4 linked regions of the Homo sapiens genome follow. The protein of the gene in region 2 interacts with the protein of the main gene of each other region in a biochemical or structural test. Each region holds a gene or a part of one and is shown on either strand. Other genes may lie near its edges. The genes, in order: CD2, PTPRC, LYN and LGALS1.

The links.
Region 1: the proteins of PTPRC (region 2) and CD2 form a complex in vitro, tested with the Homo sapiens proteins (one study listed by BioGRID).
Region 3: the proteins of PTPRC (region 2) and LYN form a complex in vitro, tested with the Homo sapiens proteins (one study listed by BioGRID).
Region 4: the proteins of PTPRC (region 2) and LGALS1 form a complex in vitro, tested with the Homo sapiens proteins (one study listed by IntAct).

The regions. Positions count from the first base shown.
Region 1 is NC_000001.11:116,764,426-116,769,756, reverse strand, and holds the end of CD2 (T-cell surface antigen CD2 isoform 2 precursor), read right to left. Parts: coding exon of another isoform or gene 5,274-5,331; coding exon 5,151-5,273; intron 1,294-5,150; coding exon 974-1,293; 3' UTR 528-973; downstream 1-527. UniProt on the Homo sapiens protein: CD2 interacts with lymphocyte function-associated antigen CD58 (LFA-3) and CD48/BCM1 to mediate adhesion between T-cells and other cell types. CD2 is implicated in the triggering of T-cells, the cytoplasmic domain is implicated in the signaling function.
Region 2 is NC_000001.11:198,712,020-198,719,050, reverse strand, and holds part of PTPRC (receptor-type tyrosine-protein phosphatase C isoform 1 precursor), read right to left. Parts: intron 6,099-7,031; coding exon 5,979-6,098; intron 2,370-5,978; coding exon 2,211-2,369; intron 958-2,210; coding exon 749-957; intron 1-748. UniProt on the Homo sapiens protein: Protein tyrosine-protein phosphatase required for T-cell activation through the antigen receptor. Acts as a positive regulator of T-cell coactivation upon binding to DPP4.
Region 3 is NC_000008.11:55,994,829-56,001,859, reverse strand, and holds part of LYN (tyrosine-protein kinase Lyn), read right to left. Parts: intron 3,515-7,031; coding exon 3,361-3,514; intron 2,443-3,360; coding exon 2,311-2,442; intron 1-2,310. UniProt on the Homo sapiens protein: Non-receptor tyrosine-protein kinase that transmits signals from cell surface receptors and plays an important role in the regulation of innate and adaptive immune responses, hematopoiesis, responses to growth factors and cytokines, integrin signaling, but also responses to DNA damage and genotoxic agents.
Region 4 is NC_000022.11:37,671,449-37,678,639, reverse strand, and holds the start of LGALS1 (galectin-1), read right to left. Parts: upstream 3,005-7,191; 5' UTR 2,938-3,004; coding exon 2,929-2,937; intron 1,655-2,928; coding exon 1,575-1,654; intron 158-1,574; coding exon 1-157. UniProt on the Homo sapiens protein: Lectin that binds beta-galactoside and a wide array of complex carbohydrates. Plays a role in regulating apoptosis, cell proliferation and cell differentiation. Inhibits CD45 protein phosphatase activity and therefore the dephosphorylation of Lyn kinase.

The sequences.
Region 1 (5,331 bases), about 82 Mb from region 2:
CTAACTGAAAACTATTTTTTTCTCCCCACTTCCCTCAAAGTACAGCTGCATGACTGCTAGCTGGGGATGGGGTCTGACCTTTTAATCATAGTCATTTAAGACACTTAAGATTTGATTCAACTGAGTTGTCTCTTAGCCTATCTTTTTGTATGTCATCTGATGAGTTCATGACACCTCCAGTATCCATAGATTCCCTTGTTTTGAAGGATGACAGTACAGGTCATTATGACCGTGTCTGAACAGTCAAGAAAGTAAGACCTAAAATGTTAAGTTTTCTGGTGACTCCTGTTAACGTTTGTGCATGGAGGCTTTAATTCATTATGGAAATCTACAAATAGGTTGTTGGACCCAGCTTTGCAGCTGAGACCTGGGGAGCATGTTCGGGTCATTCTGGTGAGGACTAAGGAGGTCTCAGCCGGATTGAGTTGACTGAATTTGATCCTGCTGTCACACCAGCGAGGCTCTTTCTTATTCGGCAGCTTCCTCTCCTCGACACTGGGATCCTTCACACAATGAGCAGACACGGGTCTAGTCAAAGCTTTTATTTCACTTTTACTCACAGGATGGTGGGCAAGTGTCCACCAGGGCACATAAGAAACTCCAGAGTCTCTTAAGCAGATAGGCTGCTTGTAGTGAGACCCAGGCACACCAATCACTTGATTTATCGCATCTACACATGACCTGAGAGGGGACAAGAAATCTCTAAGATTTCTGTGCTCGGTCCTCTACCATTCTTGCAATCACACTTATATTGCTTCTCCTTACTGGTGTGATGGAGCTCTCTGAGGAGACCAAAAACTCCAGATGTTGACCACATGGCTGAGTTCGAAGATGCAGAGGTGGCTGTGGCCCACAGCCTCAGGAGGTGACAATGTTCTGCACACAGAAAACACCTCATGGAAGTACGGATATGCACATCAGGAGGGCAGAAATCCACAGTGCTTTTTATTGAAAAAGACAGTTTCTATCTTTTTTAATTAGAGGAAGGGGACAATGAGTTTTCTGCTGCCCCATGGGGAGGTTTTGGCTGAACTCGAGGTCTGGGGAGGGGCGGGCCTTTCTGCTGGTGAACTTGTGTGCCCGACGGAGCAGGAGGCCTCTTCTGAGGCTGGTGCTGAACACGGTGTCCAGGAGGCGGGGGACGATGACTAGGTGCCTGGGAACGATGACCAGGTGGTGGAGGAGGATGTTGGGAAGTTGCTGGATTCTGAGGGGTTGAAGCTGGAATTTGGTGGGGCTTCCGGCCCCTTTCTTCAGTAGCTACTCTGTGGGCTCTTGTCTCCAGCTCCTCATCTGCAACAACAAAACCTCAATAGAGTTCATCTTGGCCAGGTGAAATCAATGTAAATATTGAGTACCTTTTATATGCAAGGCGCCATGCTAGCTGCTTTGGGGGATGCAATGAGGAAGCAGAAGTTGCCCCTACTATCTGAGAACTCTAAGCTTGTAGGAGAGAAAGAAGTGCTCACCATAAGGTAGAGTGAAAGCCTAGGACAAGAGAACTCAAGGAATCAGCAGGAAGAAGACACATGGGTGGAGGGCTTTGTGCCTGGGGCTCCCATGATCAGAGAGAGCACGCAGACCTGGAACCCTACCTCTGTGCTGACCTAGAAATTGTTCCCTGAGAGCAAGAACCTCATGGTTAGAGCGCATGGGAAGGGGTTATGAGCAGTCATGGAGGATATTAGTAACTACATTCCTTCTGAGGCATTTCTATGTTAGATCTGCCTTTCCCCCAATTCTACTGTCATGCAATCCACCTTCCGGCAAGAGGTTGGAACACATGCAAGGAACTTTTTGTCCTTAGAAATTTACTCGCTTCTCAGAAATTCAAGACCTATGTTCTTGGCCTTAGGAGGGAAAGAACTCCTCCTCTCCTCACCCTTCAGGATTTTCTTCTTTGTGTGACTTCAGTCCATGAAAGCAGGCCTACAGCTACTCGTAATGTAGTTTTTCCTGTACTCTTAAAATCACAGGGAATCTGTGAAGGTGCCCAGCTGCTAGAGGCCTGGAGCACCCTGCTGGCCCCTCTGGACTCCTTTAGGCTGTAAGTTAGGTATTTCAGTCCCTGCACCCAAGGCCGTCTTTGCAGTGGCTCCAGAGGGAGGTAGGAAGAGAAGTTTTTCCCTGGGGTGAAATAATTACCTCTTTTTTTTTTTTTTTTTGAGTTGAAGTTTCACTCTTGTTGCCCAGGCTAGAGTGCAATGGTGCGATCTTGGCTCACTGCAGCCTCTGCCTCCCAGGTTCAAACAATTCTCCTGCCTCGGCCTCCTGAGTAGCTGGGATTACAGGCGTTCACCACCACGCCCGGCTAATATTGTATTTTTAGTAGAGATGGCGTTTCTCCATGTTGGTCAGGCTGGTCTCGAACTCCCGACCAGGTGATCTGCCTGCCTTGGCCTCCCAAAGTGCTGGGATTACAGGTATGAGCCACCGCACCCAGCTGAAATAATTACCTCTTACATCTTTATGGAGATGTGTGGCTGGGGAAGCACAAGCCCTCTCTAAGCATCACCCTGTAACTTCCGGATGTTGATTCAAACCAGATGGCCTCCTCTGACTACATGAAATGTGAGCATCAGATGGCTTTGAGTGTAGAGTCAAAGTTAGACAATGTGATTTTGATACCTAAATGGCTCGTGTGCTCTAAGCACAAAGAGGAAAGGGCCTCCAGAAAGGACAAAACACATCCTCTATGCCATCTTCCGTGCCCTGCAGTCATTGCTTAGGTTATGTCCAGTAGACTGTGGAGAGGGCTCTAACCCCTGGCCCTAGTTCTGAATTATGGGGCAGTGGGTGGTCCTTCTTCATCTCCTATGTGGCAAGCTTGCACTGGCCATTGGTTTACTACTCTGTTCACCCACTATTTTTGTTTTTTATTTGTTTTGTTTTTTTGAGACAGGGCCTTGCTCTGTTGCCCAGACTGGAGTGCAGTGTGTGATCGTATCTCACTGCATTCTTGATCTCCCGGGCTGAAATGATTCACCCACCTCAGCCTCCTGACTAGCTGGGACTACAGGCATACACCAATGCACCCACCTAATTTTTAAGTTTTTTTTTTAAAGTAGAGACCAGGTCTCACTATATTGCCCAGGCTGGTCCCAAACTCCTGAGCTCAAATGATCCTCCTGCCTCGGCCTCCCAAAGTGCTGAGATTACAGATATGAGCCACCACACTTGGCCCATACACCATTTGGTTCATTTGTCCTTCCAACATTTATTCCTCATCTTCCAAGTGTTAAGTGTCATTGTGACTTAGACACAAATTGTCCTCAGGAAGCCTAAAATCAAGTAAGAGGCAAACAAGAACTGAAAATCGCAATGTCAATTTCTGTGAAGAGCCCAGGGCCACCAGAAAGTGTAGACAGAGGCACATGAGCTCTGGTAGGAGGAATGGGGTGTAGCCACATGGCTGAGACTGCAGGCAGGGTTGGACAGACAAGGTTGGCTACGGCTCTGTGCACCCTGCCTGGTTCAAGCAGGACAGTGGGTCCTCAGCCTACCCACTCCAGCAGCTGCAGCTGGCGCCTAAATGTGTGCTCCCAGGAATTCCTCCAGGCTCATTGTCCTTCTCCCTTGTTTGCATCTCCTGGTTACTCAACCCAGGGCATGACTGGAATGAGGCAAGCGAGGCTGACAGGCATGCAGTTTAAAGACACACCAACTTTCAGGTTGTGCAAGGGCAGGCCAGCCTCCTTAAATTCTATGCCTTAAATTCTGGGCTCCTTGCCTCGGCCTAGGCCTGAGTCAACCTACTGGCCATAGGATTTAAGGCAAATAATTGAACCTCACTGAACTTAAGCTTCCTCATCTGTGTTGTTATCTATCTCCTAAGATCACTCTGAAAGCTGGATGCACTAATAGACATAAAACACAGAGACTAACGACTTTTTTATCAGCATGAGCTAACCATCATTCTTCTCAGCCTGGTGATGGCAGAGATTGCCTTGTCTTGGGGTGACAAGTGAGGTCCACCTTGGAAGAAGATATGGTCTTTGACCATTAGTCAATGGAGAAGGAGCATGGAGAGGAGCATGGAGAACAGCCAGAGCTGGGCACAGAGGAGGATAAGCCAGGCATGCCTAAGGGCCCTGCCAGCGATTCTGCTGTGCTGTGGTGGAAAGTGTGGGACAGTCGTGGTGGGAAGAATGGGACTAAGTTCAGGATGATGTTTCGGGGCCTGGGCTGGGGGTAGTGACGTGATGGGACGTGGGGCTGAGGGACCGCAGCCTGATGGGGAGGCAGAAGGAGAACTGAGGAAGAAATCTGAGGTAAAGAAGCCAAATCCAGAGGGCACGGGGCCCAAGGCCACCGGTGCCTGGGGAAGTTTGGACCACCTCCCTGGGCAGCACTGGAAGCAGCTGGTGTGGCTGTGCCTGCCGGTTCTAGGGAGAGACCAAGTCCTGCTGTGAACGTGAATTGCAGAGAACCCCAGGGCCTGTTCCCTTGGCTGCAAGTCCCGCCAATGGCTGACACCCTCATCTGTGCCCCCCACAGTGACCCCGGGTTGGCCATTCTCTGAAGTGTTCTGCCTTGGGTGGCCTGGATGCTCCCTAAGCCGGCTCCCCACTTGCAAGCATAACCTTTTCATTGCTGATAGATTGTCAGACAGGCCTGATCTGAGGAAAAACTCTCAACCCTAACACATCCCTCGAACAGAGAATTAGCAAAGGGGGCACAGGCACCCTGCTTTAGAACAGCTGTTTTCCTGTGACTACCTGATGACCTGAATGATTTTCCCTGTGTTTCTAGGAGCTTGGTCCTGAACTCACCTTGGGCCACCCATAGATAGGACATTTATTCCTAGAAACGGTGTTTTGGAGCTAACCTTTCTGCCTATGTAGAGAAGTGTGGCTCATTCAAAAGATGTTCACATTAGCCTGTCACCAAGTAGGCCTCAGTGGTGGATTCCAATGAGGCCAACTGGATTCAGTGTCTCAAAGCTCCCACATTGTCACCACTAAGAATTTGTTTTTCAAAAATCAAGCTAACCACAAAATGAAACAAGCTATAACCGCTGACTACAACCCTGACATTCCGAAACTACCTATTTCCATCATTTTCTCTGCAGATTCAAGGTGTCATCCCCATGAGCTGTTTCATGGGGATTTTGCTGGGGCCTGCGGTGGGACAAAAGAGGGGGAGCTTACCATTTCTCCGACTCCTCTGTTTTTTCCTTTTGGTGATATAGAAAACGAGCAGTGCCACAAAGACCATCAAGAGGCTGCCTCCTCCACATATGCCAATGATGAGATAGATGTCCAGACCTTTCTCTGCAAAAGGAAGAGAAGTGGGATGGCTGGGAGGGGTCCAGGCAGAGAGCCCATTACT
Region 2 (7,031 bases):
GCTTTACCAATAAGTGTGTTATCGGAATGTTGTTTATATTAGAGACCAACATAGTTATAGTTAATAGAATGTGATAAAGCCATACATAGAATATTATACAGGCATTAAAAACTACATAGTAGTTAAATATTTAACATAGAAAGGTGTGTGTGATATAGTGATATATTAAAAATACAGTTTTAAAACTGTATTTTGAAAACTGTGTACTCAGAATGTTGATAATACGTGTTAAGTGCATATAAATGTGTATATTATGAAGTTACATGTACAAAATACGATCAGTAGACAGTGAGATAATGAGTGTTTTAAATTCTGTATGCTCACTAGTATTGTCTAGTGTTTATTTCAAATATTTCCTAACCTCAAGGTACCTGTGAAATTTTGCAATTGAAAAATTCCACATTAATAAAGATAAAAAGCCAAAGTAAAGAAAAGGTAGATTTGGTAAAGTAATAATCTGTTGTGCATAAAGTGTTGTGCTTCTTAACACAGAAGCAATAATTTAGCTATAATTAAGTCATATTGAAGTTCTAAAATATTCCAATGAAACATTTGCTTTAAACCACTGACTTGAGCTATAGGAATAAAAATTTTAGAGTCAAATATTTGAGACTCTTTAAGTGTGATTCCATTACACATCAGAGCTTCTCAATCTCATGTGAGCAGTGGTCTTAAAGTTATTTAAGTACTATGAATCAATCATTATAATGTAGTTGGTACTATAGTAATGTAGAGAGCATACTTTTACCTTAAAAGTGTAGTCTGTTGAATATTGAAGATCTTTTACACGGAAATCGCAATTCTTATGCGACTCATTTCTAACCAGAGTATTTCCAGCTTCAACTTCCAAATGGTAACGTTCATGGGGGCCATTACGGTCCCTGGGAGGCCTACACTTGACATGCATACTATTATCTGATGTCATGGAGACAGTCATGTTCCAGACCTGGCTTGGAGCTATCAAAATGAAGAAAGATTTGTTATTAATAATTTAATAGATGCATATGTAAATTACTTGACAATACTTGGATATAGTATAAAGTATTTTAAGTGTTAGCTTGGGGGTTATAAATAAGGAAGTTATGATAGTACATAAATTAAAAAACAATATCAAAACCCTGAAGAATAAATCACTCATTTATTCAGTAAGTATTAGCATATAGGTTGTACATGAAGCCATGAGAGTTATTGCAATCCCTGAAGGAGACTGTGTAGAATTAGAGAATAGAGAAAAAGGGAAGGGAGTGGGGAAGAGGGGGAAGTTTGGGGAGAGGAGAGGAAAAATGTTGTTGATTGGGAAACCTCCAAGTCCTATTACACAATCTAGACCCTTCTTTCCCGGAGTGCTAATGTTATCCTGGTAAACACCTAGATGGGTTCTTCAGGAACAGAAACAAATTGTCTTCTTTTTCTGTGATACAGAAACTCAGGAAAACAACAAAAGCATAGAGCTCCAGGACCAGAACTTTTCAAACCAAAACCTAAATGACCTTAAAAGTGTCTTATATTCAGCCCCAAATAGCACAATATTTCTTCACAAGTCTAGTGCCCGTTAGGGTCTCTGGAGCTATAGATGCTGCCTTAAAACACGGCATTTCTTCTTCCCTGTCCTCGATGGAGGTTAACATGTGCCCCAGAAGCAGATCTAACTTTGGGCCTGGAAACTATGGAGAGATTATACTAGTGGCAAGAGCCAAATGCCATTGAAAGGAAACCTTAAATGGATAATGTGACATAAAATAGAATAGTAAGTAGTTGAGGGTAACGAAGAGAAGAAAATGCTAATAAAATATTACATTTTATGAAATGTTTTATCAGATGAACAGAGGTTAGTAGGCTAATGCTTTATGAGACATTGTTAGGTTTCTGATTACAATTAATATTTCCAGATAGTAAAGACAACAGCAAACAGTGAATGTTTTAATCTAAGTTGGTTAAGTACTTAACTGCATGAAATTGCACAAACTGATGCCAATTAAGATGCTTTTATGCTTTGTCCTTAAAATTCTATGACTATATCTGAAGAAGAGAGAGAATCCAGGATAACGGTTTTTAAACTTTTAGATTTTACGTGTTTATAAGCCCTAGATGTTAACAAATGTGCCAGGTAAATGTGCTTGCTAGAATAAAGATAGAAATATTGTAGGCTAAAAAGTTCATACCTTGCTTTTTACCATTTATGGAAAGAAGCATTAAAACATATAACTTACGAGCACTTTTAGTTGTGAAATGACACATTGCAGCACTTCCATTACGTTGCACTTTTGCAATGATGTAGGCATGTAATGATAAAACATATTTCGTATAAGGTTTTAAATTTTGCAAATCATATTTGATCAGGTTTTTATCCAGATTGAGGCAATCTTTTTCTGAGGAAAAATGTGAAAAAAAATTAGTAAGTCGTTAAAAGTCAGTACTACCACGTACCTAATTAATTTGGTCTCTACATCACATTGTTCCAAGTGAACTCCAAACTATTGAGTGATTGAAAAATAAGTACATCCTTGATACTCAAAAGTACCTACAATTATCAGCCAGTGTATTGAACAAACTCAATTATCATTGGTAAAATTAAATATTGAAAAATTATGGTTTTATATCATTAATTTGGTACATAAAATATTTAATAAGTTCAGATTCATTTGTGAAGACGATCTCTTTTGTTTCTGAGAAAACACAGCCCCCAGTGTATACTGTAAGTCTTGAGTTGCATGTTTCAGAATGATTCTTTTTTAGAAAACCTTTTCTGATATGTAACCTCCAAACTTTGAACATCGGTATTAGCTACTGTTTTGAATGTTAGATGCAGAATCCATTTGATCATCAGTCATTGGGTTGATTCTATCATAGTAATTTGGACACTACAGTAATTAACGGGAGCTGTGAGAATGAGGGAGTTTCATGCCGGAAGTGGAATTCAGCTGTTCATTGAAAGGTAAGTGGAACTGAATACATGTAAGGGAGAAAAGAAAATATTACAAACGGAAGAAGGAATGTTTTTGAGTTTAGTGACAAACCTGATCAGGACAACAGCTCTGGCTGGGGAGGCATATGAGAGGTAGGACAGTGTCTAAGTGTGTTTTCACACTCAGGCAGAAGACTTAGCACTTGTTAAGTAAAAAAATCACCAGCTGCTGCTATTTTTGAGTAGCCAAGTGACATCAGGAAAGAGGATGATTAGAGTGGCAACATGTTTCTGGATAGCAGCAACAGTAATAATAATATCAATAACGATTTTTAAAAATAATAACTCACTGTATGTGCCAAGCACTGTTTCAAGGGGTATACATGAAATAATTAATTTAACCATCACTGCAACTATTAGTTGGTACTCACTATCATCTGATTTTACAGATGACAAAACTGAGCCACAGAGAGATTAAGCAATTTGTTCTGTTTTTTTTTTCTTAAAAAAATAAAAGGCATTACACAAAATAATTTCCAGCAACATCATGGTGGTCTTGAAAGGTGCCTATTGCTTTCAGTAACTTTTGAAAAATAATCCTTTAAATCCAATAAAGCACAAAAGATCTCTTCCCCAATTCCCCAATTACCAAGAAGCTTCACTGTCACTTGCCATCATTAAGTTAACGAGATAAAACTGCAGTTCTCCAAAATATCTTAAGCTAAAAATGTGAGGAAAAATAAACAAACACACTTTGGGAGGCCGAGGCGGGCGGATCGGATCACACGAGATCAGGAGATCCAGACTATCCTGGCTAACACAGTGAAACCCCGTCTCTACTAAAAATACAAAAAAATTAGCCGGGCGTGGTGGCGGGCGCCTGTAGTCCCAGCTACTAGGGAGGCTGAGGCGGGAGAATGGCGTGAACCTGGGAGGCGGAGCTTGCAGTGAGCCGAGATCGCATGACTGCACTCCAGCCTGGGCGACAGAGGGAGACTCCCTCTCAAACAAACAAACAAACAAAACCAAGAGCAGAAAGGAAACAGATCAAGCTACTGAACTTGAACATCTATCACATTTTCTGTTAACCTCAGTTTCATCATATGAACTATGAAGATATGTATGCACATCTCCACTGAGTTATTAAAATAGTTGATAAAATCTTTAAATAATACATAATTAAAAAAACCTGCTAAACCAATAAAACTAAATTAATGTCAATTGCATTTTTTCTCCTCTTTTAATCCCTCTCTTTTAGAGACACTGAAAAAATTAAATTGTGAAGTAATGAAGTGAAATTTAATATCTGATTAAAAAGTAAACTGCAAATTTCATAGACTTTCTTCCTGTGGATTTTTAATAGTAATTTTATTTAAAATGGTGAGAAAAGTTAAGTTGCCTTAACGATACTATAATCCTATCAACTCTCTTTGCCTTAGGTAACATGGGAGAGGAGACAGGTATATGTTTGAGATGAAGGAGAAAACAAAAGCGGAGCACGCTGTTTAGAGTAGAGCTGGCTCCAAAGAGCCCTTTATGCAGTGTCAGGGCATGGTCCAAAGCTGCATTCAGTCACCAATCGGCAGCTTTGGAGAAAAGAAAACACACAGCCTGATAGCTAGCCTCCCCTTCTCAGCCATTCAATCCCGTTTAAGTGTTCTATGTGGACAGCTGTTAAATTTGGGTAACACTATTTAGTTGCCCAATAAGAAGGACCCATGCTAGTTGCTGTAATGAGTTGCTACTAACTCATTACATCCTTTTTACCCTAATTATGCAAATACAGTGGAAATACAGTTTAAAAAAACTGTAAAAATATAAAAGAGCCATAAATGCATAAAATGTCTACCATATACTCTGACATCGACAATACTCTCTAGTAGAGAGAGTGTAGACATTGAGGAATGCAGAAAGGGATAGTGAATAGAAGATTCAGAGAAGAGAAAAAAAAAATGAACAATGTGTTCCCATAGAAGCTACACAAAGTGTTTGTAAAAGAGGTGTCCAATGAGGCAGACAGTACCTCTGCTGTTTTATCTTCCTGGAATTTCCATTTTTCCTTCCACATAGACTTAACTTTTAAATTTATCATAACCTCAAATATATAGTATATATTTATTTTCCTTGGCCTTTGAATGTTAATTTGAAAACTACATGCATATTTAACTTTGCTTTAGTAGTCTGATTATTAAGACCTAAAGACACTAGCAAGAAAAGGCCATTAAAATATAAAATAACATAATGAAGAAAAATAGCCTTTCACTTTTCAAGTTTTGAAGTGTATGTCTGGTTCCTTCCCCACAGCACAGAGTGACAGAATTCTATGAGGTTCACTTCATTCCTATTTTAACCTATGGATAAAAGAATAGAGAAAGGGCTATCCCAGGCATTGAGGCTGCTCTGAGATACTCCACTGATGTTACTTTCTACAAACAATTTAGATACTTTAAATTGTCCAGAAGATATTTGTTCTCTTAAATAGCATCTCATTTGAACATTTCATGAGTGAACTAGTCATAGCACATTTCTTTCTTCTTCTTTTTTTTTTTAATTGCATTACTTCTGCAGAAGTCTAATTCTAAACTTAGAACTATGCTCCCAAGATTACACCAAACTGGCCCCAGCGGCTACATGGGCCCATGTTCATTTTTATTCACCCAACATTTTGTCTGTATTATTAGCTGAAACAAGTTTTACAAGGGGTTTGCTTGTTTGTTGGTTTGTTTAGGAGGCTGAATGATGAGTTCAAAGTGAGTCAAATCACTTACATAATACTTGCAAGACAGAAATGAGTGTTGTCATCCAGAGGTTTTCTGTCTCTAGGCTTTGGAGCACAAAGATTTAAACTAAGACCAAGAAGGACAAGCAAATATTTAGAATGTTCTGGATTTTAGTCATTTCTGGGGCTGGAAAGCTTTGAATGAGTGGAAGCAATTCTAAGATCAGGGAGTATACTATGCCTATGCAGTCTCTAAGCAGAGAGCTTTGTGACTCACTGGCTCAATAAAAATTTCTAGTACTTTCAAATTCTTGATTTCTCTTTTCTGATGAAATTAAATTCTACACAAATTACCTGTCTCTTTTATATAACAGAGGGTAAAATTATGAAATGATCTTTGAGGGGGATTCCAGGTAATTACTCCTTGATGTGCAGCTTCACTTCTACAAAAAATAATCTGAGGCTCTCCTGGACCTGTTAAAAGAATAAGAATGTTATGTAATATGAAAAATAAGACATGGATAAAGCATTCTTCATATTATAAGCATGCATTATTGATAACCATATTTTGACAAATGATGAATTCAAAATAAAATTTAAAGAAATGCATCTGGGCTCATTTAATTTGTTTTAGAGTAAATTCCTTTAACAAAGTAAATGTCACACCAGATTGGCACTGTGAAACCTAAGCATTCCACTGACTTGAAGATATCTAAGAACCCCCTCTTCCTTTCATATACATTATTCATATATATTCTTGCCCAGATACTACCTAAAAATCCTGGAATTTGTAGATTTTGCTGTGCTAAAAATCTGGCATTCATAGCACCAATAAATTTAGCAGTCATTGAGTAGCACTTGTCATTGCTTCCAGTAACTAGTCATTTGAAACTGAGAAAAACTGATAAATGTTTAAATAAAATGTCTGAAGTAAAATTTACATTAAAATGTACCCATTTGAGATACAGTTTAATGCATTTTTAACAAATGTATACATCCACATAACCAACACCACAATCAAGATAAAGAAAATTTCTGTGATCCCAAAATGTCCTTCTGTGGTACTTCCCAGTCAACTCAGCTCCTTTGACCAGACTCACGTACCTTCTGATCAACTTTCTGTTAACTACAGATTAAGTTTGTCTTTTTACCCATTGCATGTAAATAAAATGAAACAAACAGTAAGTACTTTTTCACTCCTAACATATTGCACTCAATGTAATGTTCTGAAGATTCATTCACTTAGTTGCATGTGTCATAGTTAGAATTTTAAAAAATTATCAGTAGTTATTGTAAAGATACACCACATTTTACCTAGGATTCAACAGTGAATACACATTTGGGCTGTTTCCAGGTTTTGGCTACTATGAATGCATCTGCTTTGTCATGTTTCCTCTTTGGTAAATA
Region 3 (7,031 bases), on a different chromosome or scaffold from region 2:
TTCTCCAAGCCTCAGGGGCCATGGTAGCACATCACATGCAGCACACCACGCATATCACAAAACATTCTTTTATGAGATTGTATGTTTATCAGGTGTCAGATTATATACATAATCTGACTATATAATCTTTCTCTACAGACAGATTATAGAAAGAGATGTAGGCATAGATGGAGATAGAGATATATAACATCAGACACTGGGGCTGATTAGAAATATTTTTCCTATTTTGCAGCAATGTTAATTCATTAATCTCAGTGTCTAGAGCAGCTGGAAGATGAAATGCTGGCACTAAAGGGATTTCCTGGGACAGCCGGTCCACTGTGCAGGCAGACACCACCCAAAGGCTTTCAGCTGCCAACTGGTCCCTGCCCCAGTTTCTCTGTGGCTCATCCCCACATGAAACAGTAGTGATGGGAGCACGCAGACTGTGTGGCTGCTCTGTCCAAAAGCCTTCCCTGGTTTGCATCTCAGCAGAGTAAGAGGGGCTGCTCTTACATGGCCAGTAAGTCTCTCCCTGAGCCACTCTAACCCCCAGCTACATAGCCTTCTTTCTCATCCATCGACTGTCTAGAGATCAAATGGCCTAGGTGCGTCATTCATTCATTCATTCATTCACCCATCCATCCATCAAATACTCACAGAGGCCCAAACCACGCTGGCCTCCTGCTCCTGTTGGCCAAGCCCATGCTCTGGCTGCTCTCCCCATGGGGACATGCAGACCTCAGAGAGCCCAAGACTCCCTCCCTCTGTGAGTCCCTGCTGCTGCCAGGACCATGGAATAAAACCAGCAGCTCCCCACCCCCTTCTGTGAGTACTCGCCAATCCCTAAGCCACTCCACGCAGGCTCCACACTACTCTCACCACCCTACAGGATGGCTGTGTGTTTGATAAACATCAGTCTCTCCCCACTACAATATTCACTCTCAAGGACATGGGCAGATACCATGGCATCCTAGCAGCTGAGAGTGCCTAGCATACTCAAATATTTTTTGAATAGGAGAAAGATTTAAACATTAAAAATTTAATTTTAAATTCCCCTCATGCAAATATTTTGTTAATAGTCAAACATAAATGAAAATATGAAGGCTCTGGGAGAAATCCCTCTTTTTTTTTTTTTTTTTTTTTTTTTTTTGAGACAGAGTCTCACTCTGTCGCCATGGCTAGAGTGCAGGGGTGCAGTCTCGGCTCACTGCAACCTGTGCTTCCCAGGTTGAAGTGATTCTCCTGCCTCAGCCTCCCAAGTAGGTGGGATTACAGATGCCCACCACTACGCCCAGCTAATTTTTTGTATTTTTAGTAATGACGGGGTTTCACCATGTTGGCCAGGCTGGTCTCGAACTCCTGACCTCGTGATTCACCCACCTCAGCCTCCCAAAGTGCTGGGATTACAGGTGTAAGCCACTGCACCTGGCCGAAATCCCTCTTCTTAACCATGCCAGCACAGACCATGGAAAAATGGAGGGATGGTCAGAATCTGGCTCTGCAGGCTTCAGGTGTTAGGAATCTGGAAATAAATACTGAATGATGCCCTCACTGATACCAGTATGTTAAAGAGCAGAAGGGCCTCCCACTGATAAACAAAGGTGGTTATTTCTTGAAGAGAGAGAGACTCCAGGGCACTTATTACAAAACCAAGCATCGGAAATCCTTGTCTCCATGTGGGTTTCCTCCTTCCAGTCAGGGGGACTGCCTTGGAGGAGCCCCTGTGTCTATCCATCCTCATCTCGACACCAACAACCATGCCCGGAACATTCTAGTATGTGGTGGAATTAATCAGTGCAGAACAAGAACACACACTCAAAATAAGGAGGCAAAGAAGTGTCTAAGCACTCTTAGAACAATTTATGCTAAAGATAGTGAAAATAAAAATCAAGTCTTTTTTTTGTTTCGAGATGGAGTCTCACTCTGTCGTGTAGGCTGGAGTGGAATGGCGCGATCTCAGCTCACTGCAACCTCCACCTCCCGGGTTCAAGCAATTCTCCTGTCTCAGCCTCCCGAGTAGCTGGGATTACAGGCATGCGTCACCATGCCTGGCTAATTTTGTAATTTTAGTAGAGACGGGGTTTCTCCATGTTGGTCAGTCTGGTCTCCAACTCCCGACCTCAGGTGATCCACCTGCCTCGGCCTCCCAAAGTGCTGGGATTACAGGCGTGAGCCACCATGCCCAGCCCGTGAAAATCAAGTTCTGGCTCAAAGCACTTATTCTTTGCTATCGGGTAGATGAAGTAATTATTACTTTTTAATGCCTTCATGCAACCTGACTTTTTCTCATTTATACAGCTTGATTGTAAATAGCTAAGTAAACCATACCTGGGTAGGGAATTTTCCCATAGGTGACAATTTCGTATAGGAGGATTCCAAAGGACCACACATCAGACTTAATAGTGAAACATCCAAAGTTGATTGCTTCTGGAGCCGTCCACTTAATAGGGAACTTAGCACCTAAGGAAGAAGATATGTGGTTCTTACTTGGGTATTTAAACTTAAACAAAAAAGTCATGAACATGTGACCCCATACTTTCTTTTCTTTTCTTTTTTTGAGGCGGAGTTTCACTCTTGTCACCCAGGCTGGAATGTAATGATGCGATCTCGGCTCACTGCAACCTTCACCTCCCAGGTTCAAAATAATAAAATAATAATAATCCTTGTTCAACAATGCTTAGGAATTTCAAGAAAGTGCTTGTCTCTTCCAGAAGACAGTGAGCACTGCAAAAATATTTGCTCAGCTCTCGTGGGTGAGAGCATAAGAATCCTCAGTCATAACCACGTGGGCAATCCTAGCCCAAGAAAGGCCCTGCAGTCCCGACCATGCTTGGCCCCCTGACAATGTGCCACAGGCTGGGGAACTTAGGCCTCTCTGTGCATTTTTGGTTCATATATATAATACAGAATGTGGGAAAATAAAGAAGTAGATTTTTTGCATTATATTTAGTTCTGTGTGTATGGTAATGTTCATGTTTTAATTTGTAATTAAAAGGCTGGAATAAACAATATAGAATTAATGTTACAAATATTTTCTCCACAGCCCCGTATATTATATTCATTGTTTGAGTGAAAACTTTAACAATACAAAATAAACAAGAATCATCTTGCTGAATCTATTTGTGTTTTGCATTGCTTAATTGAAATACAACTGATAGCATTTGTAAGCCTAACAAAAGTATCATGTGGAGTTAATCAAGAGAGTACCTTCTAGAAACTATTAGAATAGAACCATAAGCAGACAATTATGGTACAGCTTAAATGTTGTACCAAATAAGTTTTTCTTAATGGTGACTATTGTAATTGCTTTGTCAAAAACAGACAAAAACAAAATAAAACACAATAATAAAACATCTAAAGATCATTAGTGCAACATACCTTCCCTTGCTGTGTACTCATTATCTTCAATTACTCTAGCAAGGCCAAAATCTGCAATTTTGCACATGAGTGACTCGGAGACCAGAACATTAGCTGCTCGCAGGTCCCGGTGAATGTAGTTCTTCCGCTCGATGTATGCCATTCCCTCTGCAATCTGAAAACAGAAATAGGCTCCCATTTTCATATGTAGGGTAGGTGACTGGAAAGTGCCATCAAGGAAAACCGGAAAACTTATGAATTCCTGAAATCTTTTCATGTATACTATTTTGATCATTCAGCTTTTAAAGACAGTGGGTAATGGCAATCACCATTTGAGCCCTTTCTAAAATAACTGACCACCCTCTGCCAAATCTCCAACAATGGTCATCTTAAAAAAAAAAAAAGGAACATGTCTTAACATTTTCTTTTTTTTTCTTGAGACGGAGTCTCGCTCTTTCACCCAGGCCGGAGTGCAGTGGCGCTATCTTGGCTCACTGCAAGCTCCACCTCCTGGGTTCACACCATTCTCCTGCCTCAGCCTCCCGAGTAGCTGGGACTACAGGCACCCACCACCATGCCCGGCTAATTTTTTGTATTTTTAGTAGAGACGGGGTTTCACCATGTTAGCCAGGATGGTCTCGATCTCCTGACCTCGTGATCCGCCCGCCTTGGCCTCCCAAAGTGCTGGGATTACAGGCGTGAGCCACCGCGCCTGGCCATGTCTTAACATTTTCTAATGTGTGAAGAATCTTTTCAAGACCCTGCTAAATTCATCCATGTAGATACATAGATGTTATTATGCCAGTTTCTCAAATCAGAAAACAGATGCTATGGTCTGAATGTTTGTGTCCCATTCCCCGCCCCCTACCCCAAAGTTCAAATGTTGCAATCCTGAACCCCGAGGCAATAGTATTAGGAGGCAGGGCCTTGGCAGGTGATTAGATCAGGACGGTGGAGCCCTCACGAATGGGATTAGTGCCCTTGTAAAAGAGACCCCAGAGAGCTGCCTTGCCCCTTCCACCACGTGAGGACACAGCTATATGGTGCCATCTATGAACCAGGAAATGGCCCCTCATCAGACATGAAACCTGCCAGGGCTTTCCTTGCCCCTAAACTGTGGGAAATAAATGTCTCTCGTTTAAGCCACCCAGTCTATGGAATTTTATTATGGCAGCCTGAACCAACTATGAAAATAGAGTTGGAGAAAGTGACATGCTAATACAAATAAATTATTAAGGTATCAAGAACAGGATGTCGTTTCTGTCAGGTTAATCAACAGCCCATGGAACTGGCTCTCCAAGTTCTCTCTGCACATTCCCTCCAGGACAATCACAAAGATTCACTCTTTTTTTTTTTTTTTTGAGACAGTCTCACTGTCTCCCCCAGGCTGGAGTGCAGTAGCATGATCTCAGCTCACTGCAACCTCCCGCCTCCTAGGTTCAAGTGATTCTCCTTCCTCAGCCTCCCGAGTAGCTGGGATTACAGGCACGCACCACCATGCCTGGCGAATTTTTGTATTTTTAGTACAGACGGGGTTTCACCATGCTAGTTTTTGTATTTTTAGTAGAGATGGGGTTTCATCAGGCTGGTCTCAAATTCCTGGCCTCAGGTGATCCACTCACCTCAGCCTCCCAAAGTGCTGAAATTACAGGCATGAGCCACCACGCCCGGCAAGATTCACTCTCATGACAAAGTATGACAGCAGGAAAGAATCCAGGATTTAAACACAACAATAACATAGGGAGGCAAAACTACTACTCGTTGCTGAATAGAAAGTGTAGTATCGTTCCAAAGTCAGGTTTTTAAGGAAGACATTACCAAATTATAAAGTTAAGGAGAAGGAAGGAAGAAAGGAAAGGAAGGAGGGAAGGAAGGATGGAAGAAAGCAAGCAAGGAAAGAAGGAAGGAACAAGGAAATGAAGGAAGGAAGGAAACAAGGAGAGAGGAGGAAAGGAGGGAAGTAAGAAGCAAGAAAAAGGGCAAGAAGTAAAGAAAGCCAAGTAGTAGTTTATCTGGTAAGCAGTTAGAGAAAACTCTGATTCGAATTTTTCACACAGGAATGAATGTATTCTGCCAGATTCTACCTTGAATTGCAGGTGGCTCGGCTTGGAGGATCTGACTTTCCCCAGTCATCTGCAACAGTATCCCTGGTAATCAAGCACTTCAGGCCGCCAGTTCCAGACCACGTTGCTTAGCAAAAGATTAGCTCCTTGGTATTGGGTCTGCCTTTGCTTCCCCTCTAGGCCAATCCCTGGCCTCACCTTCTGCCCCGTGGGCCTTCCCTGAACTCCCCTTTACTCACCCTAGATGGTCAATGTGTACAAAAACCATCTGCAGCTGCTGATCACAGCTTTGTCATTATTTTTATGCTGTTTAATGCTCTCAGTGGTGTCATGTTAGCCAGTTGATAAACACCTCTAGGGCTGAAAATATCTTTTCTATTCTCACTTGTATACATTGGAGCCTTCAAACTTGTCACCAAACCTCTTATCAGAGACAAAGTAAGTCCTTTGGGAAATGGGCTGGGGTTTTCACATGACCAGAATACTATCTTGTTAGCCCACTACTACAGGGATTTGGCAGATGATATTCTCATGGTCACAAAAATCTCAAGTAAAATAATCAGTGTGGCCTACATCAGTCTCAAAGACTATTCAGTCCAGTATTTCACTTCCGAGTGGAAACAAAGAATGTGGTCCAAGCTCCTTTGCACTGCTGCCAAGGCCCCGTATGACCCGGCCCCGGCTCAGCCCTCCACCTCCTCACCACGACCCCCTCCTTTGTGCTTCTACACCCCCTGCCTCTGTGTGGAACGCTCATTCCCTCCCTGCCCCTTTCACCCGACCTATGCAGTTTGCCTGTCTCAGCTGAGATTTTACTTCTCCCGGAAGCCATGCCTGGCATACCCTCTCCTGCCAGGTGTGCATGCATCCCCAGTGCTCCCTGCTCCTCACCTGACTACCTGTCCACAATTTCTGCAGGAACATGAACCCATCCCAGCACTGAGCACAGCACAGCACTAAGCACAGCAGGAGGCTTCATTTCATGAGGGACTTGAGAAGTGGGACAGAGGCTGAGTGGAGCAGAAACCAGACGGACAGTAGGAAAAGGACAGGGCAGGTTTGGAGAGCAGTGACTTCGTGTCCCCTGCCTTTCTCCCAACTGTCACAAACCCTGAGCACTGGGGAGATGCACAGCTTTTACCTGACCCTGGAAAAGATTCAAACAGCCTTGATGGGAAGTCAACAGAAGGTGGGCAGTGGTGATAACCAGGTGAAGGCAGAGCTCCTGAGTCTGACTTTCTCTAGGAAGCCTCTGCTGCCCAGAAACAGCAGGCAGTGGCATGGTGAGGGCGTCAGGAAGTTCAGGATAGCTCCTTCTAGAGTGGGCACTACTGAAACAGATGACACGGGGTGGCAATTTTGGTGGCGGCTGGGAGAGAGGAGCCCTGCCTCTGTTTCCTTTTGTCTGCTGGTAACCCAAGTTCAACAAGACTTGTTAGAAAAAGCCAGTAAAACTGGGAAAAGTGGAGAGCGAAGATCAGGCTGAGCATGTGTGAAAGAAAGGAGTGTACGATTATAACACAGTAGGCTTTTGGCGATAGAACCACGATGCCTGGCTCAAACAGACCAGAGTTGGTTACAGGAGCCCAGATGAGACAGCAGCAATTGAGCGGTCATAGCTGACTCTGT
Region 4 (7,191 bases), on a different chromosome or scaffold from region 2:
AGGCTGGAAGGGAAAGACAGCCTCCCGCTGCTCGGTCCCCCAGGCCCCGCCGTCCTTGCTGTTGCACACGATGGTGTTGGCGTCGCCGTGGGCGTTGAAGCGAGGGTTGAAGTGCAGGCACAGGTTGTTGCTGTCTTTGCCCAGGTTCAGCACGAAGCTGGGGGGTAACGGGTGGGCATGAGGCCACCTCGGCCAGCTCCAGCCCCACTGACCGACTAATCTGTCACTCAGTATCCCATGAACGCACCTTGCTGGAAGAACTCACTAACAGAGACAAGAAACCTGGATTCTAGCTCTGGCCATGCCACCTGCTCCTGCCCCTCTTCCCCTGTTTGCTCATCTGTACAATGGGGGCTGCACAGGAGGGCTCGCTTGATTCTTGAAGTCATTAGCATCCTAGCCCGTTTGGTCAAGGTCAGTGACTCCCTCCAGATGGTGACCTCCCGTCCTGTCTTGTACATCTCTGTATTCCCGGTGCCCAGCACAAGTGGGGCACACCAGAAAAAGATGCTTAGTAATTATGGGGCGAATTAACAAATAATAATAATAATACTCCCGGGCACGGTGGCTCATGCCTGTAACCCCAGCACTTTGGGAGGCCGAGGCGAGCGGGCAGATCATGAGGTCAGGAGTTCGAGACCAGCCTGGCCAACATGGTGAAACCCCGTCTCTACTAAAAGTACATAAATTAGCTGGGCGTTGTGGTGGGCCCCTGTAATCCCGGCTACTCAGGAGGCTGAAGCCGGAGAATCGTTTGAACCCGGGAGGCGGAGGTTGTGGTGAGCCGAGATCACGCCATTGCACTCCAGCCTGGGCGACAGGGTGAGACTGTGTCTCAAAAAATAAATAAATAAAATAATAAAATAATAAATAAATAAATAAAATAATAAATACATTTGTTGAGTGGTGATAATAGCAATACCTGCCTCTGAGGGTTTGGTTGAAATGAAATTAGTGCATGAGAAGTGTGCGGCTCTTAACAATATCAGCTGATCCTCATCCTCCTCACTGTCACTGCGCCAGCCGCATCTCACTTCCTCCACACAACCACCTCCCCCCTTGTTTTTCTAACAAACTGAGGCTAGGTGAGGTTGGTTGACTGGTCCAAGGTCACCTAACTGCCGAGAAAATAAGGCAGCCGTCTGAGTGAATGAGAAGTGAAGGAAGAAGGACCGGACTGAGCCAGTGAATGAATGAATGACCAGACGCAGGAAGGAGGGACTCAGGGGGAAGGCGGCGGTGACGCCCGCCCCACTCCTCTCCCCGCCCTCCCCAGCGACAGGTCCCGCCCAGACCGGAAAGGGGTGGGGGCGGGGGAGTCAAGGTATTACAGATGACGAGGCTGCAGCTGGTTTAGTTTAAGAGGCTACAGCAGGGAGGGAGCGGGGGAGGGGGCGGCAACGGTGGGGGCGCCCAGACCCTGCGGGGGAAGTGAGTCACCCAGAAAACGCAGCATCGGCGGCTGGCCGTTAACCCGCTCCCGGCCAGGGAGGAGATGTGGGCTTGGCCGGCCACGCCCTCCCTGCTGGACCAAGCCCGTCCCTGCCGCCCACCACCCCGACTTCACTTCTCACCTCTTAGCGTCAGGAGCCACCTCGCCTCGCACTCGAAGGCACTCTCCAGGTTTGAGATTCAGGTTGCTGGCGACCAGACCCTGCACAGACAAGCCCCGGCCCAGCCGGGTTAGAGGACAAGGCCTCCACTGCTCGAAGTGTCCGGGGGTGGCTGGGGGTGGGAGTGGGGTTGTTCCCGCCCGGCATCCTCTGACCAAGCCAAGGGGAAGCCTGGGGAAAGGATTGAGCTGTAATTTCCAGCCTCCGATTGTCTATGTGGTCCTGGGAAAGTCCCTATTCCCACCGGGGTTGGCTTCAGTCTGTAACGTGAAGGTTCTAGAAGACAGGCTCTAGAAGATTTTGCAGATTGGCTTGGGAATTTTGGACTCAAGAGTGACTTGGGAGATGGGGTGCTCTGTCCCATCGCAGATGGAGAGGATCAGGCTGGGGAGGGGCCGACACTTGGCCCACCGTCACACTGAATGGAGGGGCCGGCCCCTCTGCTGGAGAGGAAGTGGCTAGGGGCGGGCGACCCCACTATTCTCCTTCAAGCCCCTCTCTGCAAAGAGGCCCAGGGGCTAGAGAGGAGACCCTGAAAAACACGGCCTCTCTGCATTAGGGAGAATAGCCCTGCAGTCGGGCTGTGGCTGGGCTGGCTCAGGGTTAACAAGATTGAGCAAACTGCTGGGCACTGCTGTTCCCTGGCACCCCGAGTGGGTGGGCAAGAGTTAACTGGTTTGAGTGGTTTCTTCTGCCAGAAACTTGAACCCTTTCCCTGGGGCCCGAGGAAGATTCTCACCTCCCTGCCACCCCAACCTCCCAGCTTGGGGGTGGTGGAAGGGAATTTCCCCCGCCCCCCCCGCCACCAGCCTGGACACAACCACCCTCCACCCCCGACCTAGAAGGGCCCATCCTGGGCAGCTTGTCTCGGGTCCTGGCAACTTTTCAGCGTTCTCTGGAGCAGAGGGTAACTCTGCCCTGGCCTGGTGACCGGGACAGCTGCAGGGGGGAGGGGACAGGAGGCTCTTTGGGGTGGAGGAGGGGGAAAGGGATAGTGGCCTGGGTGTCCCCCAGTTGGCCACACCCTTCCCACGCTCACTTCTCAGAGAGCTGCAGAATGTCAACCCTGGGCAGAAATAACTGTGCTTTCAGACCCTGGAGGAATCCAGACAATTATCAATGCAGAGAAGGCCTTGAGGGACCATGGCGCCCACCCCCATTTTACAGATGTGGCCACTGAGGTCCAGAAAAGAGAAGGCACTGGTTCCAGGCCACACAGCTGGGGCTAGAATCTGCTCCCGATCTGCCCAGCTCTCCTCTGGCCATCAGTTCCTGCCCTATCCCCTGGACCTTGGGGGGGGGTCCCCACACTCACACAAGCCATGATTGAGTCCAGGAGGATGTTCCCGGGCAGGCGCACCAGCTGTCAGAAGACTCCACCCGAGAGAGATGGGCCCCCGGACGCTCCCACCCTTTTAACTGGACCGGACCGGGTGAGCCCCGCCCCCTGAAAGTTCAGCCAATTGCAAGTCAGGATAGGGCTGGGGGCCACTGGGGGCGGAGTCCGTGGAATTTTGAAGCCAGTTTTGGAGCAGAGGTGACCAATCAGAGTGGCGAGCTGCTGCCCCCCCTCACCCCGCCGCCCCCGGCCAGAGTCCAAGCTCCACCTCCTATTCTCCTTCATCCCTCTCCACCTCCCCACCAAAATTGTGCTGTGGCAGAGATTGGGGGAAGCCAGTGGAAAATAGTTTGATGATGAGCTAGGCCCACAAGTTGGCGGGAAGGGGCCTGTGGCCAGCAGGCTGGGCTCAGGGGGTGCCCAGAGAAGATGGCTGAGGAGGTGCAGGGTCCTTCAGGGAATCAGAGCTGGGGGAGACCAGGCCACTCCCGGGCAGGGACCAGGGCGTGGCTCCTGCTGCGTGCGCGTCTGCAGAGGGCCACTGACTTAACCACAGGCCCTGGCCCCACCCGGGCCTTCCCCGGAAGCAAGGACTGCGGCTGCTGCAGCGCTCTCTCGCTGGCTCCTCGGGAAGGCTAAAGAAAGGCTGGGCCGGGCGCCAAGCCTGAGGCTGCAGGGCTTGGCTAAGGCCTCGGGCTTGGCCGCGTTCAGGGGCAGGCAGGGGATAGTCAAAGCGCCCTGGCCTGACAGCCTCAGGCCTGAGAGTGTCAAGCTTAGGAGATGGCCCAGGGTGGTCCAGACCAGGAGGGGGTGGGGTCCTGGCTCTGTGCACCCTGTCCTTTCTCTTTTTTATTTTTATTTATTTATATATTTATTTTTGAGATGGAGTCTCGCTCTGTCGCCCAGGCTGGAGTGCAGTGGCGTGATCTCAGCTCACTGCAACCTCTGCCTCCCAGGTTCAACTGATTCTCCTGCCTCAGCCTCCCGAGTAGCTGGGACTACAGGCCCCCACCACCACACCCGGCTAATTTATGTACTTTTAGTAGAGACGGGGTTTCACCACGTTGGCCAGGCTGGTCTCAAACTCCTGACCTCAGTTGATCCACCCGCCTCAGCCTCCCAAAGTAATGGGATTACAGGTGTGAGCCACCATGCCTGGCCACCCTGTCTGCTCTCTTAACATCTCCTCTGAGGCCCGGCACAGCCCTCCCTTCCCTGAGTGTTCAGCAGGTATTTTACTGAGCACCTACTATGTACCTGGCCCTGGGCTCTGAGGATTCAAAGCTGAACCCCTCCCAGTCCCCACTCTCAAGGAGCGCATAGTTGGGGTGGAATCTGACCACAACCACGTTAAGAAGTAGATGATGGGCTGGGCGCAGTGGCTCACGCCGGTAATCCCAGCTCTTTAGGAAGCCGAGGCGGGCGGATCACCTAAGGTTAGGAGTTCGAGACTAGCCTGACCAACACGGAGAAACCCCATCTCTACTAAAAATACAAAATTAGCTGGGCATGGTGGCATATGCCTGTAATCCCTGCTACTCCTGAGGCTGAGGCAGGAGAATCGCTTGAACCCAGGAGGCAGAGGTTGCAGTGATCCGAGATCAGTCTATTGCACTCCAGCCTGGGCAATAAGAGTGAAACTCAGTCTCAATTAAAAAAAATAAAAAATAAAAATAAAAATAAAAAGAAGTAGATGATGATGGCTGTAAGGGAAGCCATGAGAAAGTGCTATGGTGGGCTGGCGGCTGCATGAGTAAAGGAGGTGGGTCGTGAAGGGTAGGCGGAGAAGTGCCTGGCTTTCCACCATGGGCAGAAGCTCCAGAATGAGAAGGCCAGGGCTGGAGAACAGTGTTCCGGGCATGTGGGGGAAAAACGGGGATGAGGCTGGGAAGCCAACAGGACCTGGACCATGGAGGGCCTCATGGGCTGGGCACAGGGCTTGGACATTGTTGTATGGGAGGAGGCTGGGGAGCCAGGGCTAGAGGGAGGGTGAGTACTGAGGCCAGATTTGGGCTCTAGGGAAGATCACTGTGGCAGAGAATTGAGGGTGGGTGGGAGGGGTGCTCACCTTACACTCAGGAACCTGGTGGAGGAAGGGGCGTGGGGAGCACTGGGCAAAATGAGGGGCATGCTGGGGGGTTGTCACGGGGACCTCCTTCTCCACCTGGCCGTCCCCCTTCTGAAACTGCTGGCACCAAAGAGGGACGAAGATGCGGACCAGGAGTGACTCACATCTGGAAGCCAGGCCAACACACCCACCCTGCCTCTCAGGGGCACCTTCCTCCAGATGCCCAAAGCCCACTCTGGTACAGGATGAGAGGGGAGTGTGTAGGGCCGCAAGGCGGACCCAGAGAGGGGATGGGGTTGCACCCCTGTGAGTGCCTTACCCCTCCTTCCAGACCAAGTGGCTGCTTGGAAACCAACCACAGCAGCTTCACTTTTTCCTCCGGGCCTCCCCAAAACCTCAACCATAGGAAGGGCTGGATGGGGCCCAGCCTAGTTCCACTGCCCCTCCCCCATGCCTCCCCTCTCTGCCAGATCAAGGAATGGGGCATCTCAGGCGGAGTCCTAGACCGAGGGTCAGAGGCGCTTCAGGTGTGGTCCTCGCCGGGCTGCGGGCGGGTGGGTGTGGCCACTTTCCCAGCCCAGCCCAATAATTGGGTTCTTGTAGCCTCAGGAGCTGCTCCTGCATCCTCCTCCACCCTGGAAAATGGGCCCGGCATCAGGGACTGTTTGCTGTTGGATGGAGGGACAATTTACTCCTCTGCAGCGTCTGGCATGAGTGGGGCTGGCAGGGAGGCAGGGTGGCATGGTGAAGAGGTCCCTAGAAAGGCCTATTTGGGAGTCTAGACACGCGGGTGCTGGCCCTGCTTGCTATGTCCCCTCAGAGCCTCCTGGCAAGCTGCTTCTCCCACTTGCCTCAGTCTCCCTATCTGTAAATTGGGGAGATGAAATCCTGCTTTCCTTGCACGAGGTGAATACAGGGTGGAACTGAGGTCTGTTGTACTAAACAGATGATTCGTGTTTTCATGGAGGCTCAGAAGGTTTTCACTTCCTTCTTGTCTCTTCCCAGGCTGTTACCTTCCCTAGGTCTTTGCAGCACCTCTGGGAGGTCTACATGTCATGCCCAACAGGTCCCCAACAGTCTCCTCTTGCCGAGGTTGGGGCAAGAAGTCTCTCCAGATTCCAGTGTCCCCTGTGACAGGAGCTGCGGTTTTCCTGGCGGGGAGGGAAGGCAGGGACACAGGTGCATCGTGGGCCTCCTCCCCCTAGTCCTCAGGGCCTCCTAGTGGCAGCGCCCACTTATCTTGCCAGGCCCTGTGCCCGGCGCCTTGCTTTCATTATCTCCCCTCTCATCTTCCCCTCGCCCCTACTTTGTGTCTGCCAACTTGGTTGAATTTCTGCACAGGGAAATGAAGCTGCAGTTAGAATCAGAAGAGGCCGGGCACGGTGGCTCATGCCTGTAATCCCAGCACTTTGGGAGGCTGAGGTGGGTGGATCACCTGAGGACAGGAGTTCGAGACCAGCCTGGCTAACATGGCAAAACCCCATCTCTACTAAAAATACAAAAATTAGCTGAGTGTGGTGGCGGGTGCCTGCAACCCCAGCTACTCAGGAGGCTGAGGCAGGGAGAATTGCTTGAATACAGGAGATGGAGGTTGCAGTGAGCCGAGATAGTGCCACTGTACTCCAGCCTGGGTGACAGAGCAAGACTCCATCACAAAAAAAAAAAAAAAGAATCAGGAGATGAGACGAGTGGTGAGTTCTGGTTTGGGGGCTGAGTGGCTGCAGCTGTAGCTGAGGTCCTTGGCTTCTCTGAACCCGTTTCCAGGCCTGGAAGATGGGAATAAGGCCACTGCTTGGAGGATGATAGGAGTGATGTCTAAGGAGGGGCTCGATGTTAGTGCTCCCTCCTGCATCCCCCAGGCTAAGGCCACCACCCCAGGGATTCTCCTCCCCACGTTATAACTGTCCTGAAATAGAGGCAGTGAGCTCTCTGGAATTCCTTTGTCCTGGGCTGGATCTTGGCTGCTGCCATGAGAAATGGGCTCAGCTTGGTCTAGACAAGTCATCCAGGCCAGCTCGGTCATTCCCGCCCTGCCAGGGACAGGGGGCAGAGGCGGGGAAAGGGAAGCTGTACCTCCTTCAGCTGGCGGTGCTGAAGGAGGGCGGCCCACAGAGGCGCCATCCACACCCGCAGCCAACCTGGGTGCTCCAGCCAGGGAAGGTAGGGGAGGT